Regions from separate parts of the Homo sapiens genome. Here region 1 is linked to region 2. A link means that fine-mapping ties the variant in region 2 to the expression of a gene that starts in the linked region. Tissue or cell type: aorta. Region 2 holds a variant in brackets; the other region holds the start of a gene. All regions are shown on one strand. Distances are between the middles of the regions. Region 1 holds the start of MSH6 (mutS homolog 6). Region 2 overlaps MSH6 (mutS homolog 6).

The links.
Region 1: it holds the start of MSH6, and the variant in region 2 is fine-mapped to the expression of MSH6 in aorta (GTEx, PIP above 0.99).

What each region holds. Positions count from the first base shown.
Region 1 is chr2:47,778,300-47,786,819 of GRCh38, forward strand. MSH6 (mutS homolog 6) reads left to right here and starts at 4,846. Exons shown (of 10, transcript NM_000179.3): 1 at 4,846-5,194. The coding sequence starts at 4,935. RefSeq lists silencers at 3,087-3,268, 4,419-4,898, 5,179-5,338, 5,539-5,628 and an enhancer at 4,219-4,288.
Region 2 is chr2:47,800,903-47,808,902 of GRCh38, forward strand. It overlaps MSH6 (mutS homolog 6), which reads left to right. Exons shown (of 10, transcript NM_000179.3): 4 at 1-253; 5 at 2,518-2,783; 6 at 4,008-4,125; 7 at 4,716-4,805; 8 at 5,302-5,456; 9 at 5,550-5,749; 10 at 5,877-6,051. The coding sequence ends at 5,958. It overlaps FBXO11 (F-box protein 11), which reads right to left. Exons shown (of 23, transcript NM_001190274.2): 22 at 7,427-7,525; 23 at 6,018-7,345. The coding sequence ends at 7,216. Among named protein-coding and RNA genes, the nearest start is that of MSH6, 22 kb to the left of the region's middle. The variant C/T (reference allele first, on the strand shown) is at 3,331.

The DNA of each region.
Region 1 (8,520 bases), 22 kb before region 2:
GCCAAGCACTGGGCTGAGGGCTTCATAATGCCCTTTCACTCAATGCTTAGCACAACCCATGAAGAAGGTAGTGTTAATATCATCCCTGTTTTACAGATGTAGAAACTGAGGCACAGGCTAAATAACTTGCCCAACAAGCTCGTGCAGTTTAGTAAGCAGCTCAGCTGGGATGTGAACACAAACTTTGAATACAGAGCTCTTAACCAGTAGGCCAGAGGTTCCCAAACACCTAGTATATTTACTACCTTAGTACTTTCCTGCCACATCTCCTAGGCCAAAACAACTCCATTGATTGTTATGCAATTTACTAAGTGTAGCCATTTGAAAAAAAAATACATATAAAAGAAAAATATTTTTATTCAGTTTTCAAAATAACCCATATATAGTCATGGAATGTATGTGTTGGTTGGGCACTGCAGACTAAAGACAGTTTAGGGCCGGGCACGGTGGCTCAGGCCTGTAATCCTAGCACTTTGGGAGGCCAAGTAGAGAGAAGGGCTTGAGCCCAAGAGTTGGAGACCGGCCTGGGCAACATAGCAAGACCCAGTCTCTACAGAAAATAAAATTATCAGGGTGTGAGGACGCACACCTGCAGTCTTAGCTGCTTGGGAGGCTGAGGCTGGAGGATCAGCCTGGGCAACAGAGTGAGACCCTGTCTCAGAAAAAAAAAAAAAAAAAGACAGACTTTTATTCAGATATGCATGCAGGAGTTCACAGAAAAAAAAAGTGAGTCCAGGAGGCTGTTATTTGGCATTTATACAACTTTTTTTTTCTTGAATCTCGAAATCTACTTTATATATACCATTTAATAGGGGAAGAGGAGGGAGAAAAAGCCTTCCATGGGAAGAACAAATAGGTTTCTGGGGGAACAAAAGGGAGATAAGAATGTTTGTTTTTGCAGGTGCAAGTGGTCTTTGTCTTTTTTTCTGGCCACTAAAACTCCCCTAGAGAGGAGATTTACGGCAGCTTCACTCCCAGAAATTTCTGCTGTTAGTCGCATAAGGGAAGCTTTGAAACGGCATCTTTCTGCATCTGTTGGCTCTCAAATGTCTTCAGTTCCAAGTAACATTCATGCCAATTCTGGGGGTCTGAGTGTCCCCACATAATACATGTGTTCTCTTGTCTTTTAATGAAGTTTGTGGGAGGCATCTAACTGTAGCCTCCAAAATTTGGCCCATAGGTACTACTGTCCTTATCAAAGACGAGGAAACAAGTTCAGAAAAGTATTAATTGCTCCGAGTTATCTGCTTGGCTAGCTAGGATCAGAGCTCAGTTCTCCATTTAACCCAAAGCCCAGGCTCTTAACCTCTTACAACTGGCGCATCCCCTCTGAACCTCCATTTCCTCCCTGTAAAAGAATAACATCGGCCGGGCGCAGTGGCTCACATCTATAATCCCAGCACTTTGGGAGGCAGAGATGGGCGGATCACGAGGTCAGGAGTTTGAGACCAGCCTGGCCAACATGGTGAAACCCCATCTCTACTAAAAATACAAAACTTAGCTGGGTGTGTTGGTGCCTGTAACCCCAGCTACTCAGGAGACTGAGGCAGGAGAATTGCCTTAACCTGGGAGGCGGAGGTTGTGGTGAGCCAAGATCGTGCCATTGCACTCCAGCCTCGGTGACAGAGCAAGACTCCATCCCCAAAAAAACAAACAACAACAACAAAAAGAGAATAACGTTATATTCAGTTGAACCAAAATGAATTAAATATTAATATTTGTACTTCAAAAACGGTCCAGCTTGGCTGGGCGCAGTGGCTCCCGCCTGTAATCCCAACATTTTGGGAGGCCGAGGCAGGAGGATCATTTGAGGTCAGGAGTTTGAGACCAGCCTGGCCAACATGGTGAAATCCTGTCTCTACTAAAAATACAAAAATTAGCTGGGCAGTAGTAGCGCGTGCCGGTAATCCCAGCTATTCAGGAGGCTGAGGAAGGAGAATTGCTTGAGCTTGGGAGGTGAAAGTTGTGGTGAGCTGAGACTGCACTACTGCACACCAGTCTGGGAGACAGAGTAAGACCCTGTCTCAAAACAAAACAACCAAAAAACCAAAAAGGTCCAGCTTGGGCAACATAGTGAAACTTCGTCTCTACAGAAAATTTTTAAAATACTAGCAGGGCACCGGGCACAGTGGCTCATACCTGTAATCCCAGCACTTTGGGAGGCTGAGGCAGGCGGGTCACTTGTGGTCAGGAGTTTGGGATCAGGCAGGCCAACATGGTGAAACCGTGTCTCTACTAAAAAACAAAAATTAGCTGGGCATGGTGGTAGGCACCAGTAATCCTAGCACTCAGGAGGCTGAGGCATGAGAATTGCCTGAACCCGCAAAGCAGGGGTTGCAGTGAACCAAGATGGCGTCACTGTACTCCAGCCTGGGTGACAGAATAAGACTCCTCAATTAAAAAAAAAAAAAATTAGCTGGGCATGGTGTTGCGGGCCTGTGGTCCCAGGTACTCAGGAGGCTGAGGTGAGAGGATTACTTAAGCCTGGGAGGTTGAGGCTACAGTAAGCCAAGATCACGCCACTATACTCCAGCCTCTGTGACAGAGCCAGACCCTGTCTCAAAAAAATTTTAAAAAGGGCAAATTTTGGCAATTTCACATAGTTCAACCTAGTATAAGGTGGTTGTAATAACTAAATGAGATAAAATGGTGTTAAATTGGAAGTATTATAGTATTTCTGTTAACAACATAGGGCTCCAGAACCAGCTTCCTTGAGTTTAAATCCAGGCTCCACCACTTCCTAGCTATGCAGTCATGGGCAAGTTACTTGACCCAACTGTGCCTCAGCTTCATCCATGATATGGAGATACAGGATAACCAGCCTCTTACGTGCAATTCTGAAATCCAAAAAGCTCTGTAAACCAAAAGTTTGGGGGTAAACTCATTTGGTAGCAAATTTTGACCTGAGGCTATTTATAGTCTATATTCTGTATTCTTTCTACTTAGTATGAATAAGCATGTAAGTTTTACTGCATGTTTGATTTCAGCATGTTCCCCCAGACTCTCTGGGGGTGTTTACGTATGCCGGTGGGGGAAAGAGACCAACTCTCAAATATTATCTCAAACAGTTGGTTTCACTGTGCTTGCTTGGGTAGCACATATACCAAAATTGGAATGACCCCTGCACAGGGATGAAATGCAAATTCGTGAAGCATACTGTATTTTTCTTAGCACATACCACCTTTGGCAATATTCTTTTTTTTTTTTTGAGAGGGAGTCTTGCTCTGTCGCCCAGGCTGGAGTGCAGAGGCGCGATCTCGGCTCACTGCAAGCTCCGCCTCCCGGGTTCACACCATTCTCCTACCTCAGCCTCCCCAGTAGCTGGGACTACAGGCGTGTGCTACCACGCCAGGCTAATTTTTTGTATTTTTAGTAGAGGCGGGGTTTCACTGTGTTAGCCAGGATGGTCTCGATCTCCTGACCTCGTGATCCGCCCACCTCCGCCCCCCCCCCGAAGTGCCGAGTGCTGGGACTACAGGCGTGAGCCACTGCGCCCGGCCCCCGCCTTTTTTTTTTAGATTGATTTTATTACTTGCCTAGCAAAGGAGAACCTTCTGGCAGAACAGTCTCCAAGAACAAGGCAAACAACTAATTTTACATAGGTTTTTACCAATGTACAGCTGTTGATTGTGACTGGTTTCCGGCAATCTGGATTTCACAATCTGGATAAGGGGACAAACAATTGTCTGTCTTCCACTATCTTTCTTGAATTTGAATAGAACCTTTTTATTCTCATAGCCTCTTAGCTTTCTTTCTTTTTTTTTTGAGACGGAGTTTCGCTCTTGTCGCCCAGGCTGGAGTGCAGTGGCGCGACCTTGGCTCACTGCAAACGCTGCCTCCCAGGTTCAAGTTATTCTCCTGCCTCAGCCTCCCAAGTAGCTGGGATTACAGGCGCATGCCACCACGCCCGGCTAATTTTTGGATTTTTAGTAGAGACGGGGGTTTCACCATGTTGACTAGGCTGGTCTTCAACGCCTGACCTCAGGTGATCCGCCCGCCTCGGCATCCCAAAGTGCTGGGATTACAGGCGTGAGCCACTGCGCCCGGCCTCTCATAGTCTCTTAGCTTTCTAAAATTTGAAAAATCCTGTAAAGACACACCTGGGTCAAAGGGCTCAGATAACGGACTGTGGCCCTTAAGTACTTACGTCACAGGTTATTGAGAGGATCGATTTAGTTACCAGATGTAAAATGCTGGGATCAGTGCCTGGCAAAGGAAAACTTTGTACAGCTGCAGGCTTTCACCATACACAACAGCATCGCTAACGAATGCTATTACAATATTCATTTAGCGTTTACCAAGTGCCTACTCTATACAAATCTTGAGAATACAACGTGAAGGTGAACTGCTGACTAAAGTTTGGTCCCTTTCGCTCCGTCTCCTTGCGAAAATGCTCTAACGGCAGGAGGTCACGCGAGCGCTGGACGCGTTTCTCCCCGCGAGCCCCTTTCCGAGGCCTTTCGGGTCCCCCCGGTTATCCCCGCCCGGGCGGTGCGCGCCCCCGCTGTTCCCGCTTCCGCTCCAGAGAGGCAGGGCTTTCCGAGCCTGCTAGCCCCGCGGCCGCAACTAACCCCGGGTCGGAGTGTTCCGGCCCGGCCAGCCCCGCGGCGTGAGGGAAGGGGAGCTCAGCAGTTCCCCGCGCGGGGCCCAGGCGTCGGCGGCAGGGCGGGCCCCTCACCGCCAGCGTGCCAGCCCCGCCCCTACCCACCAGTGTGCCAGCCCCGCCCTTCCCCACGTCGCCGCGCGCCCGGGGGCGGGGCCTGGCGCGCACCGCCCGCGCACGGCGAGGCGCCTGTTGATTGGCCACTGGGGCCCGGGTTCCTCCGGCGGAGCGCGCCTCCCCCCAGATTTCCCGCCAGCAGGAGCCGCGCGGTAGATGCGGTGCTTTTAGGAGCTCCGTCCGACAGAACGGTTGGGCCTTGCCGGCTGTCGGTATGTCGCGACAGAGCACCCTGTACAGCTTCTTCCCCAAGTCTCCGGCGCTGAGTGATGCCAACAAGGCCTCGGCCAGGGCCTCACGCGAAGGCGGCCGTGCCGCCGCTGCCCCCGGGGCCTCTCCTTCCCCAGGCGGGGATGCGGCCTGGAGCGAGGCTGGGCCTGGGCCCAGGCCCTTGGCGCGCTCCGCGTCACCGCCCAAGGCGAAGAACCTCAACGGAGGGCTGCGGAGATCGGTAGCGCCTGCTGCCCCCACCAGGTAGCGGGGTGGGGGTGGGGTCGAAGGCGGGGGCATAGCGGCGGGGCGCTTGGAACCCGGCGAGGGGAGGCTCGCACAGGGGGTTGGGGGGGTGCACGGCCTGGCCCTGGGCTCGGAGGAGGCGGGGCCGCAGAGTTGGCTTGAATGAGTGCAGGGGTCGAGTCTGGAGCATTTGGGGGTGTAGCTTGTAAACAGGGTCGGAGGAGAGAGGCTGTGCAGGAAGAGGGCTGCAGGGGAGACGCGGAGAGTTCGGGCCTTTTGGAGGGAGGAGACGCGTCCCGCCAGGTGGGGGTGCTGGGCTAAGGAAGGGGCGACGCGCGCAGCTCCGGGTGGGGAGGGGGCCTGGGAGGTGGGAGCACTGGGGGTGGGGCGAGAAGGGGAAGGCGCCCGGCCCACTTGGTGGGCGGGGCGGGGGGCGGGGTGGCGGGAAGGAGGAATGCCTGCGGGAGGCCGAACGGGGAGAGTCCGGTGGTGTGGGGTGCGAAAGGAGGTTCCTCGGCCGGCGCGGAGATAGTGAGTTGGGGCTCCAGTAGTCGATCGAGGTAGACACTTAGAGGTAGTTAAGAGCCGCGGTCGCCGAGACGCCTTGGGGACGGTGGGCCTTCGGCCTAGGTGAGGGGCCGCCGAGGGGGTGGGCCACGAGCTGCGAGCGCGGGGGGGTGTGTCACCATGGGGACCGCGGGGCCTAATTGGGCGGGGCGGGGCCGTGGGGAGCCGAAGTGCTGGGATCCGGCTGGGTCCTTCGGTAGGTAGGCTGCACGTGCACCGAGACGAAGATAGAATATTTTGACGTATGTGGAAATTCGTGTCGAGTGGAAAATATTTTATTTTATGAAATAGTGTAATTTTTATGGGGCACCACTGGGCTTTTAGAGGCCTTAATCGGGCGCTGGACAAAGATGTGTGGACGTGAGTGACTCCGGGGAAGCCTGTCGGGAGTTGTCCTCACTTTATGGGCAGTTAAGTGCTTTTTTTTTTTTTTCCTTTTTGAGAGAGAGTTTCGCTCAAGTCCAGGCTGGAGTGCAATGGCGCGATCTCAGCTCACCGCAATCTCCGCGTCCCGGCTTCAAGCGATTCCCCAGCTTCAGCCTCCCGAGTAGTCGGGATTACAGGAATGCGCCCCCACACCCCGCCAATTTTGTATTTTTAGTAGAGACGGGGTTTCTCCATGTTGGTCAGGCTAGTCTCGGAATTCCCGACCTCAGGTGATCCACCCGCCTCGGCCTCAAAGTGCTGGGATTACAGGCGCTAGCCACCGCGCCCGGTCTGTTTAGGGCTTTTTATCCGGGCAGCTGGCGACATTTTGAAAAGCTTGCTTTTGCTGTTTGCCAGATACATATATATGTATTTTGAGACAGAGTCTTGCTCTTTTGTCCAGGCTAGAGTGCAGTGGCGCGTTCTTGGCTCACCACAACCTCTGTCTCTGGATCAAGAGATTATCCTGCCTCAGCCTCCCAAGTAGCTGGGACTACAGGTGCGCCCCACCACGCCTGGCTAATTTTTGTATTTTTAGTAGAGACGGGTTTCACTATGTTGGCCAGGCTGGTATCGAACTCCTGACCTCTTGATCGGCCCGCATTGGCCTACCAAAGTGCTGGGATTACAGGCATGAACCACCGAGCCCGGCCGTTTGTCAGATACTAAACACAAAGTTTAATGGTCGCTATTTGAACAAACGAAGAAATAAAGGCTCAGAAAAAATAACTCATTCAAGATAAGAGCCAGTTCGTGTTTTTTGTTTGGTTTTGTTTTGAAATGGAGTCTCGCTCTGTCGCCCAGGCTGGAGTGCTGTGGCGCTTTCTCGGCTCACTGCAACCTCTGCCCGCCGGGTTCAAGTGATTCTCCTGCCTCAGCTTCCCGAGTAGCTGGGATTACGGGTGTGCCCACCGCGGTCCGGCTGATTTTTCACCATGGAGTTTCACCATGTTGGCCAGGCTGGTCTTGAAACTGCTGACCTCAAGTGGTCCACCCACTTCAGCCTCCCAAAGTGCTGGGATTACAGGTGTGAGCCACCGTGCCCGGCCGCTAGTTAGTGGTTTTGAGTAATGGATTTCAAATCCATTTAAATCCAGTTTAAAGTGTCCTAAAGGAATTCTGAGATTTTTCTAAGTGTAATTATAGTGTTACCCTTGTTTAAGCGACCCTTTCCCGCAGTTTAAATATATATAGTTGTGCATTAGTAGAATATGCTTGTGGGGAACAGAGCCAGCATCCGCAATAACAAACTCCTGGTTAGAAAAGCATGACGTATTGTTTACTTGAGCATGAATTGATTGTTGAATCCAAACCAAACGGGTGTATTTATTGTAAGGATGTACTTTACATTCATATTGAATAGCGTATGTTATTTGTTTCTTGAGGTTGAGTTTAAGAGACTTGTAAAAATAAAACGTATACATTTCACCTCCCGTTATGGAGAGGATTCCAGGGTATTCAAGAAAGATGGGCATTTGATACTAGGTTTCTAAAGAAACTGCAGTGTCTAGATCACTCTGCCGAGCACAGCATTAGGCATTATGGATCCTGGATACAACCATGAACAGGACAAAGCAAAGAGGCAATTGTAGACTCCAAGTGGAAAGGGGACGGAGAGGATGCGGGTCAGGCTAGGCTCTCAGCTCTGTAAACCGAAACCAGAAGGACAAATAAGCTTAGACAGATTATAGTGAGAGTGGGAAGCTGGTTCAGGAAGAGGAAGGTCTGCAAATTGTGGGTAGGATGAAAGGAGGAGGAGGGAGCATTGGAGAAGTTAAGCAGAGATCCAATCATGAACAGTCTGATGAGCTACAGAGACATTCGGACTTACTCCATGAATCATTTAAGCCTTAAAACATGTTGAGCGTATTTTTTTTTTTTTTGAGACGGAATTTCACTCTTGTTGCCCAAGCTGGAGTGCAGTGGTGTGGTCTCAGCTCACTGCAACCTCCGCCTCCTGGGTTCCAGCGATTCTCCTGCCTCATCCTCTCAAGTACCTGGTATTACAGGTGCCTGCCACCACGCCCAGCTAATTTTTGTGTTTATAGTAGAGACGGGTTTCACCATGTTGGTCAGGCCAGTCGTGAACTCCTGACCTCAGGTGATCCACCCACCTCAGCCTCCCAAAGTGTTGGGATTACAGGCGTGAACCACCGCACCTGGCCGTGAGCCACCGTGTCTGTCCGAGCATCTTTTAATGTTTGTCATTTAGATTTCTTCTTGTGCTGAAGTGTTTGTCTTTTGCTGTTTCTTTTTTTTTTCCTAGTTCTTTGTCATTTGTGTGTGATATAAATGTCTTCTTTCACAATGAGTTCTTTCATTTAGTTTATGGCTTTGTTGTTGTTGTTGAA
Region 2 (8,000 bases):
AGGAACCGTTACCAGCTGGAAATTCCTGAGAATTTCACCACTCGCAATTTGCCAGAAGAATACGAGTTGAAATCTACCAAGAAGGGCTGTAAACGATACTGGACCAAAACTATTGAAAAGAAGTTGGCTAATCTCATAAATGCTGAAGAACGGAGGGATGTATCATTGAAGGACTGCATGCGGCGACTGTTCTATAACTTTGATAAAAATTACAAGGACTGGCAGTCTGCTGTAGAGTGTATCGCAGTGTTGGGTAAGACTTTGAACAAGCTTGTTCTCAGGCTTTGATAAGTAGTGCTGTTTGCCAGCTGTATATTATCCCTAAAAATAAGTAATAAGGTATATATGGTACATATTTTGACATGCATATACATATTTGCATCCTGACTAGGCTGCCCACAGCAATTTAAGTTACTTGAAACTCGCTTTTATCTTAGTAGCCCTTTGGCCTTTCTTCAGTTTTTTTTTTTTTTTTTTTTTTTTTGAGACATGGTCTTGCTCTGTTGCCCAGGCTAGAATATGGTGACACAACCATGGCTACTGCAGCCTCGACCTCCCAGGCTTAAGTGATCTTTCCACCTCAGCCTCCCAAGTAGCTGAGATTACAGATATGCACCACCATGCATGGCTAATATTTAAATGTTTGTAGAGAGATGGGGTCTCACTGTGTTGCCAGGACTGGTCTTGAACTCCTGGGCTCAAGTGATCCTCCTGCCTCGGCTTCCCAAAGTGCTGAGGTTACAGGCATGACCCATTGCGCCTGGCCCTTTCTTCAGTCTTTAATAATCGAACAAAAGGTTTTTGTTTTTAGACAGTGTCTTGCTCTGTTACCCAGGACAGACCTCTCGTGTCAGCCTCTTAGGTAGCTAGGATTTACAGGTAAGCACCGGCGTGCCCTGCTTTATTTTTTTGGTGGGGGAAGGGGGAAGGGAGTTGAAGCTTCCCTATGTTGCCCAGGCTGGTCTTGAACTCCTGGCCTCAAGTGATCCTCCAGTCTCCCAAAAGTGCTGGGATTACAGGCATGAGCCACCGCTCCCGGCCCAAAAGATTTTTAAATGTGTTATACTTCATGAGACAGGCTTTATTTTAGATCGAATTTTATTTATCAATAAAAAGTTGAGCTTTTTATTATTTGGTGAATACTGTTTCAAGGTGCTTTGTTACACTATCTGTTGATCCAACATTTAAAAATTGTTTTATTACAACCTTTGCATTTCAGTGAATCCATCTGCATACAATTTTAAAAGAATCATTCCTTTTTTCTGTAGCCAAATTGTCAAAGATTCTTTCCTACAATTGATTTTTCAAAGCCCTGAGTTAGGAATTTACAATTTGGCAACCATCTCAACTTCATAAGCAATTTTGTTCTTTAAATGTCACGGCCAACATTACCTGGAACCATTGCTGTTTTATAGTTTAGGTTTATGTTGTATATTTTTTTTAATTTTTTAGAGACGGGGTCTTGCTGTTTTCAGACTGGAGTACAATGGGATGACTAGCTCACTGCAGCCTCAAACTGCTGGGTTCAAGTGATTCTCCTTCCTCAGCCTCCTGAGTAGCTGGGACTACAGGTGGTCACCATCACACCTGGCTAATTTTTGTATTTTTGGTAGAGACAGGGTTTTTCCCGTGTTGGCCAGGCTGTTCTTGAATTCCTGACCTCAAAGCGATCTGCCCGCCTTGATCTCCGAAAGAGCTGGGATTACACGCATGAGCCACTGCGCCCAGCCCTGTTTTTTTTTTTTTTTTTTTTTTAAATAATGGTAGTTTACTTGAATTTGTAACACAGTAACACAAAACTATTTTGATCTGAACGCAAGTATCTAATGGAACAGAATAATATACTTCCTTTTAGTGTGCTGCATTTGGTTACTGGGTAATTTAAAATTCTTCCTCAGCACAGGTGTTCAAAAACCAGTCTTCAGAGATTGTTTTCATATCAGTGTGCCAACTTTGGCACATTCTGCTAAGTAAGAGGCTTAAGTGTAGCATGTTTCTGCTGTTTTGTGTTTGTTTTGTTTTGTTTTTTGAGACAGAGTCTCTCTGTCGCCCAGGCTGGAGTGCATTGGTGCGATCTTGGCTCATTGCAACCTCTGCCTCCCAGGTTCAAGTGATTCTCCTGCCTCAGCCTCCTGCGTAGCTGGGATTACAGGCATATGCCACGTGTATTAGGCACTGCTAATTTCTGTATTTTTAGTAGAGACGAGGTTTCACCATGTTGGTCAGGCTGGTCCTGAACTGCTGACCTCGTGAACTCTGCCCGCCTAGGCCTCCTGAAGTGCTGGGATTACAGGCGTGAGCCACCGTGCCTGGCCTCTGCTCTATCTTTTAGCTTTCCCTTGGCACTTCTATGGTCCAGATGTTAGAGGGTAAGTATTTTGATGGGGGAGATCGTTGGACTGTAATTGAAAGTTATGTCTTATAATGAAATGTGTTATATAAAGAAGACCTATAAAACACTTAGGCTGATAAAACCCCCAAACGATGAAGCCTCACTTTTACCCTCTCTTTTAACAGATGTTTTACTGTGCCTGGCTAACTATAGTCGAGGGGGTGATGGTCCTATGTGTCGCCCAGTAATTCTGTTGCCGGAAGATACCCCCCCCTTCTTAGAGCTTAAAGGATCACGCCATCCTTGCATTACGAAGACTTTTTTTGGAGATGATTTTATTCCTAATGACATTCTAATAGGCTGTGAGGAAGAGGAGCAGGAAAATGGCAAAGCCTATTGTGTGCTTGTTACTGGACCAAATATGGGGGGCAAGTCTACGCTTATGAGACAGGTAACTGATTCTTAAAGTTTTGTTATCAGAAAGTCATTTGTGACATTAGGAATAACATACTTAGGTGATCATTTTCCAAACACAGTTACATAAAAGTCAGCCAGTGACTTAATAGGAAGCAAAGGGAAATTACTCCCTGTGTTATAAAATTGAGAATTATATTTAGCTGAAACATCGATGCTTAATGTTAAGGGGAATATATGTTAAAAAGGGGAAGGAGGTCAGTCATTCAGGTCATGAGGCCCTTTGACTTGAATTCATTTCCTCAGAAGGTAGGTATATTCATAGTGAACAAAAATACAAAGGCTGTATGAAAAGATGAAAATGTTACAGGTTTATCCTTAAATTAGACTCATTTGCAGAAATGCAAATGAGGTAAGAAAGCAAATATAGTTCATGACCTCTAGCAACTGTTGAAAACTGCTCTTTAGGGATGACATGCTGGCCCTTTTTTTTTTGTTGTTGCCAAGGCTGAAGTGCAGTGGCACCATCACAGCTCACTGCAGCCTCGAACTCCCAGGTTCAACCCTTCCTCCTGCCTCAGCCT[C/T]CCCAGTAGCTGGGACTACAGATGTACACCATCATGCCTAGCTCATTTTTAAAAAAATTTTTTATGGCATTGTATTTATCTTCTCTTTATAACCAGGGGTTGACCAGCCACAGAACTTGTAAAGTTTTTTATATTTTTAAAAGGTTGTAAGAAATAGTAGTAGTTGGCTGGTCCCCGCTGCTCTCCTGCATTATAGTATACTTCTGTTCACCTAGTTTGCTAGAGAGAGGCAGTATAGTGTGTATAGTGATTTCCAAACTTTTTCTTTAAATCAGAATCACCTGAAAGAATGTGACAACGTGTAAAAAAAAAAAAAAAGGTGCAGAGATTCCATCCTGACATGGATTCACTTGATTGGAATTGATTCTAGGCATCTCAGTAGTTTTAAAGAGCTCCTAGGTGATTCTATTCTGGCCAGCGTTGAGAATCACTAGGGTAGTGGGTTGGTAAGCAGGCTCTGATGTTTTAAAGGCCAGGTGAGGCCCTATGCCTCTTGTCTCTCTTAGCCTCAACTTTCTCCATGTTAGCAAATGGATTTCAGAACAGAACCAACGTACATGTGATTGTGAAAGTTGTTTTAGAGTGCCTAGCTCTTACGTAAGGGTTCATAAGAAAGACAAAAGTTTATGAAACTGTTACTACCAGTCATAAAAGACCTTTTCCTCCCTCATTCACAGGCTGGCTTATTAGCTGTAATGGCCCAGATGGGTTGTTACGTCCCTGCTGAAGTGTGCAGGCTCACACCAATTGATAGAGTGTTTACTAGACTTGGTGCCTCAGACAGAATAATGTCAGGTGAGTTTTTTGTTTCCCACTTAAGTTCTCATTCAGTCATTTAGATGTGATAAAAGATATTTGCTTCTTGTATATGAGCCTTTTAAATCTAATATTTGATTTTTCTGGTGTTACTTTAAAAACATCACTTTTTAAGAACTGCATAGTCTCTCTCTCTTTTTTTTTTTTTTGAGATGGAGTTTCCCTCTTGTTGCCCAAGCTGGAGTGCAATGGCACGATCTTGGCTCACTGCAACCTCTGCTTCCAGGTTCAAGTGATTCTCCTGCCTCAGCCTCTCGAGTAGCTGGGATTACAGGCGCATGCCATCACGCCCAGCTAATTTTTTGTATTTTTAGTAGAAGCGGGGTTTCACCATGTTAGGCTGGTCTCTTAACTCCTGACCTCAGGTGATCTGCTTGCCTCGGCCTCCCAAAGTGCTGGGATTACAGGCGTGAGCCACCGTGCCCGGCCAATAATTGCATAGTCTCTTAATGAGATTTAATCTTTTATACCAATATGTGTAGCTCATGATAGCTATATAACCTAGAAGATGAATTTATGTAATATGATTTGCAAAATGAGTATTCATTTGTGATTTTTTTTTTTTTAAGGTGAAAGTACATTTTTTGTTGAATTAAGTGAAACTGCCAGCATACTCATGCATGCAACAGCACATTCTCTGGTGCTTGTGGATGAATTAGGTAAGACATTAAACTTCTCATTTGAAGACTATCTATCTTAAAAACATTTGTACAAATAACTATTTTTATAGAAGATTATCTGAAGTACATTTAAACAATATGAATGTTTTTAGAGCACGCACTCACCATTGTGGCACAGACCGATAGTTGGAGATAAAAGGTGATATTGTGAAAGGTTTTTGATTACCCATTAATTATTAGGCCTTACACTGTTTAGTTGTAATAAAACATTTGTTATACTACGGGGATGAGAACACTAATAGGAGGACTCAGGAAGTTTATGACCTTGAGCGATACTGTATTTTCTTTAAAAGAAACCTCACTCCCCATGGGCTGCTAAGCAGACTCGTGTAGCTAAACAAGGCCTATTTATAGAATGCTTTTAGACGTGGATGTACTAACCGATGTTGCTTTTCTGTCCTAGCATTTTTGTTTTAATTCCTTTTTTGTTTTAATTCCTTTGAGTTACTTCCTTATGCATATTTTACTTTAACAGGAAGAGGTACTGCAACATTTGATGGGACGGCAATAGCAAATGCAGTTGTTAAAGAACTTGCTGAGACTATAAAATGTCGTACATTATTTTCAACTCACTACCATTCATTAGTAGAAGATTATTCTCAAAATGTTGCTGTGCGCCTAGGACATATGGTATGTGCAAATTGTTTTTTTCCACAAATTCGGTTTTTTGAGAGGGCACTTCTCTTGCTAGCACATGTATCGCTAATATTTTTCTTTCTTAAGGCATGCATGGTAGAAAATGAATGTGAAGACCCCAGCCAGGAGACTATTACGTTCCTCTATAAATTCATTAAGGGAGCTTGTCCTAAAAGCTATGGCTTTAATGCAGCAAGGCTTGCTAATCTCCCAGAGGAAGTTATTCAAAAGGGACATAGAAAAGCAAGAGAATTTGAGAAGATGAATCAGTCACTACGATTATTTCGGTAACTAACTAACTATAATGGAATTATAACTAACTGACCTTAAGTTTCAAAGAAACAGTAAAAGGGGAAGGGATGATGCACTATGAAAAAACAAAAAAACTTTTTTTTTTTTTTTTTTAATTTTAAGGGAAGTTTGCCTGGCTAGTGAAAGGTCAACTGTAGATGCTGAAGCTGTCCATAAATTGCTGACTTTGATTAAGGAATTATAGACTGACTACATTGGAAGCTTTGAGTTGACTTCTGACAAAGGTGGTAAATTCAGACAACATTATGATCTAATAAACTTTATTTTTTAAAAATGACCATTTTTCCATTTTCTTTCTAGGAAATTAAACCCTTTTAATTCTTATCTACCTTCTACATAATGGTTATTGAATACTCCACAATATATTAAGTCTAGATGTTATGGTACATGCATACACTTTCAGGCTGTTTTATACCCACTGTCACCAATACACATAAATGGGGGAGGAAAAGCTATGAAACTGTATAGGGCTGTATATATACTTGTCTCAGCTTAATGCAGGAAATTGGTTTAATTTCCAGCAGTTTTGTCTAAACTGTTCAAAAAAAAACTATGAACAGAGTTCAAATACAGGACTGTTTGTTTTGAAGAGACTTTCTAAAGTGTACTTAAAACATAGTAGTTTTTTACCTTTCACAAAACTGAGTTACAAGAATACTTTTGTTTTACAGTGCATCCCTTCCTAGGAAGTCTCATTAAAACACTCACTTTTTCTAGGGGTGATTTTGAATGCTGCACAGGGAAGGGAAGGAAATAATAGTCTTAACTTTTCTTAAAGGATACCAGAAACATTGCTGGATATAATTTAAGATTAGTGTTTTCTCTTTCATAGAAAGAACGTACATACTGGGACATGAGTACAGTTACAGCAAGTCTAGGTGTGCTAACAAAACAGGGCACATTCAAGTACAGTAAGATTTTGCTTGAAATTAAAAACAAACTACATGAGATTAAAGCATTAAAATCATATTTCTCAATCTGAATACATGTTAAAAAAAAAAAATCAAAAGGAACGCAGAAGTGCTAGCTCACATTTTTACCATATTACAAAAGCAATTGGTACCCATGTCCATAAAGGCAGCAACAAAGCTGCTTGTCTATTGAAGATTACTACTGCAAATTGGACTGCATTCAATGCTAGTTGTAAAAACACCAGCTTTTCAGAAGTTGGTATCTGTACAAAATTGCAGCTTATTTTCTTCACTTCTGTCCCTTCAAGTCTTTACACAGTAATGCTAAAACACCCAGCTTTGAGATCCTGAGTCAATATATTGCCACTTTCTTTTTGGTAGCTTGAGCTTCATAGTGTCAACTGACCTTGTGTATCCATTTTTAATACAGTCTCTTCCTGTAGCATGGGCAAATATTTTAAATCTTCTTCCAAAAAAGTGTTTTAAGTTATGATGTTACAATGGCAGGACTTTTTCTTTAGGGAAGGAATTCAGTTGTGCTGCAATGTATTAGATTCTATAGGTGGAGCAGAGTCATATAGTGTATCTGTATCATGTGTAGGCTCACCAGCTAATGTACAAGGATTAGACAGTGTTCCAGCACCACAGTCACAGAAAAACCTAAAGCAAAATGAAACCCAAATATTAGAAAAGTGAGGGGGAAAGTAATTGGGTAATATATCAAGCAAGTGTGCTACATACCTATCATGTCTAATAAACTCTACATCATGTCCCTGATGGCACTTCTTAATGCAGTTCACACATATGGCATTTCGATCTGTGGTGTTACAAGTATGACATCTAAAAAGCAAAAGCTTAAATTACTTTTCTCAAACATGTCATTAATGCAAAACATTCCATTCTGTTTATATATTACTATGACCTTTGGCTTTAAGAGGACCAAAACAAAATTCTTTGTGGCTCCAGCCCAGATTAATTCTGAAAAGGAACTTTAATGGAGTAAGTGATTTTCCTGTCATCTGTGTCTTCGGAGGGAAGAGAAATGATTTGTAAATTGTATAAAGGCAGTTCTTTCCACTTTAAAAGCCTCTCAAATGTTTCTGGGCTGAAAACAATTTTTGGAGGCGTGAAGAGTCAAAACTGTCACAGTGACTGGGATATATCAAACACTTAACCCCGACATCTTTACCTTGAAATTTCTAGGAAAACATTACACAACATGAGTTACATGAATGACATCAGTTACTGTAGCATTAGGTTTTTCCATAGTTATGGTCTTTGTTTTGTTTTGTAGAGACAGGGTCTCCCTATGTTG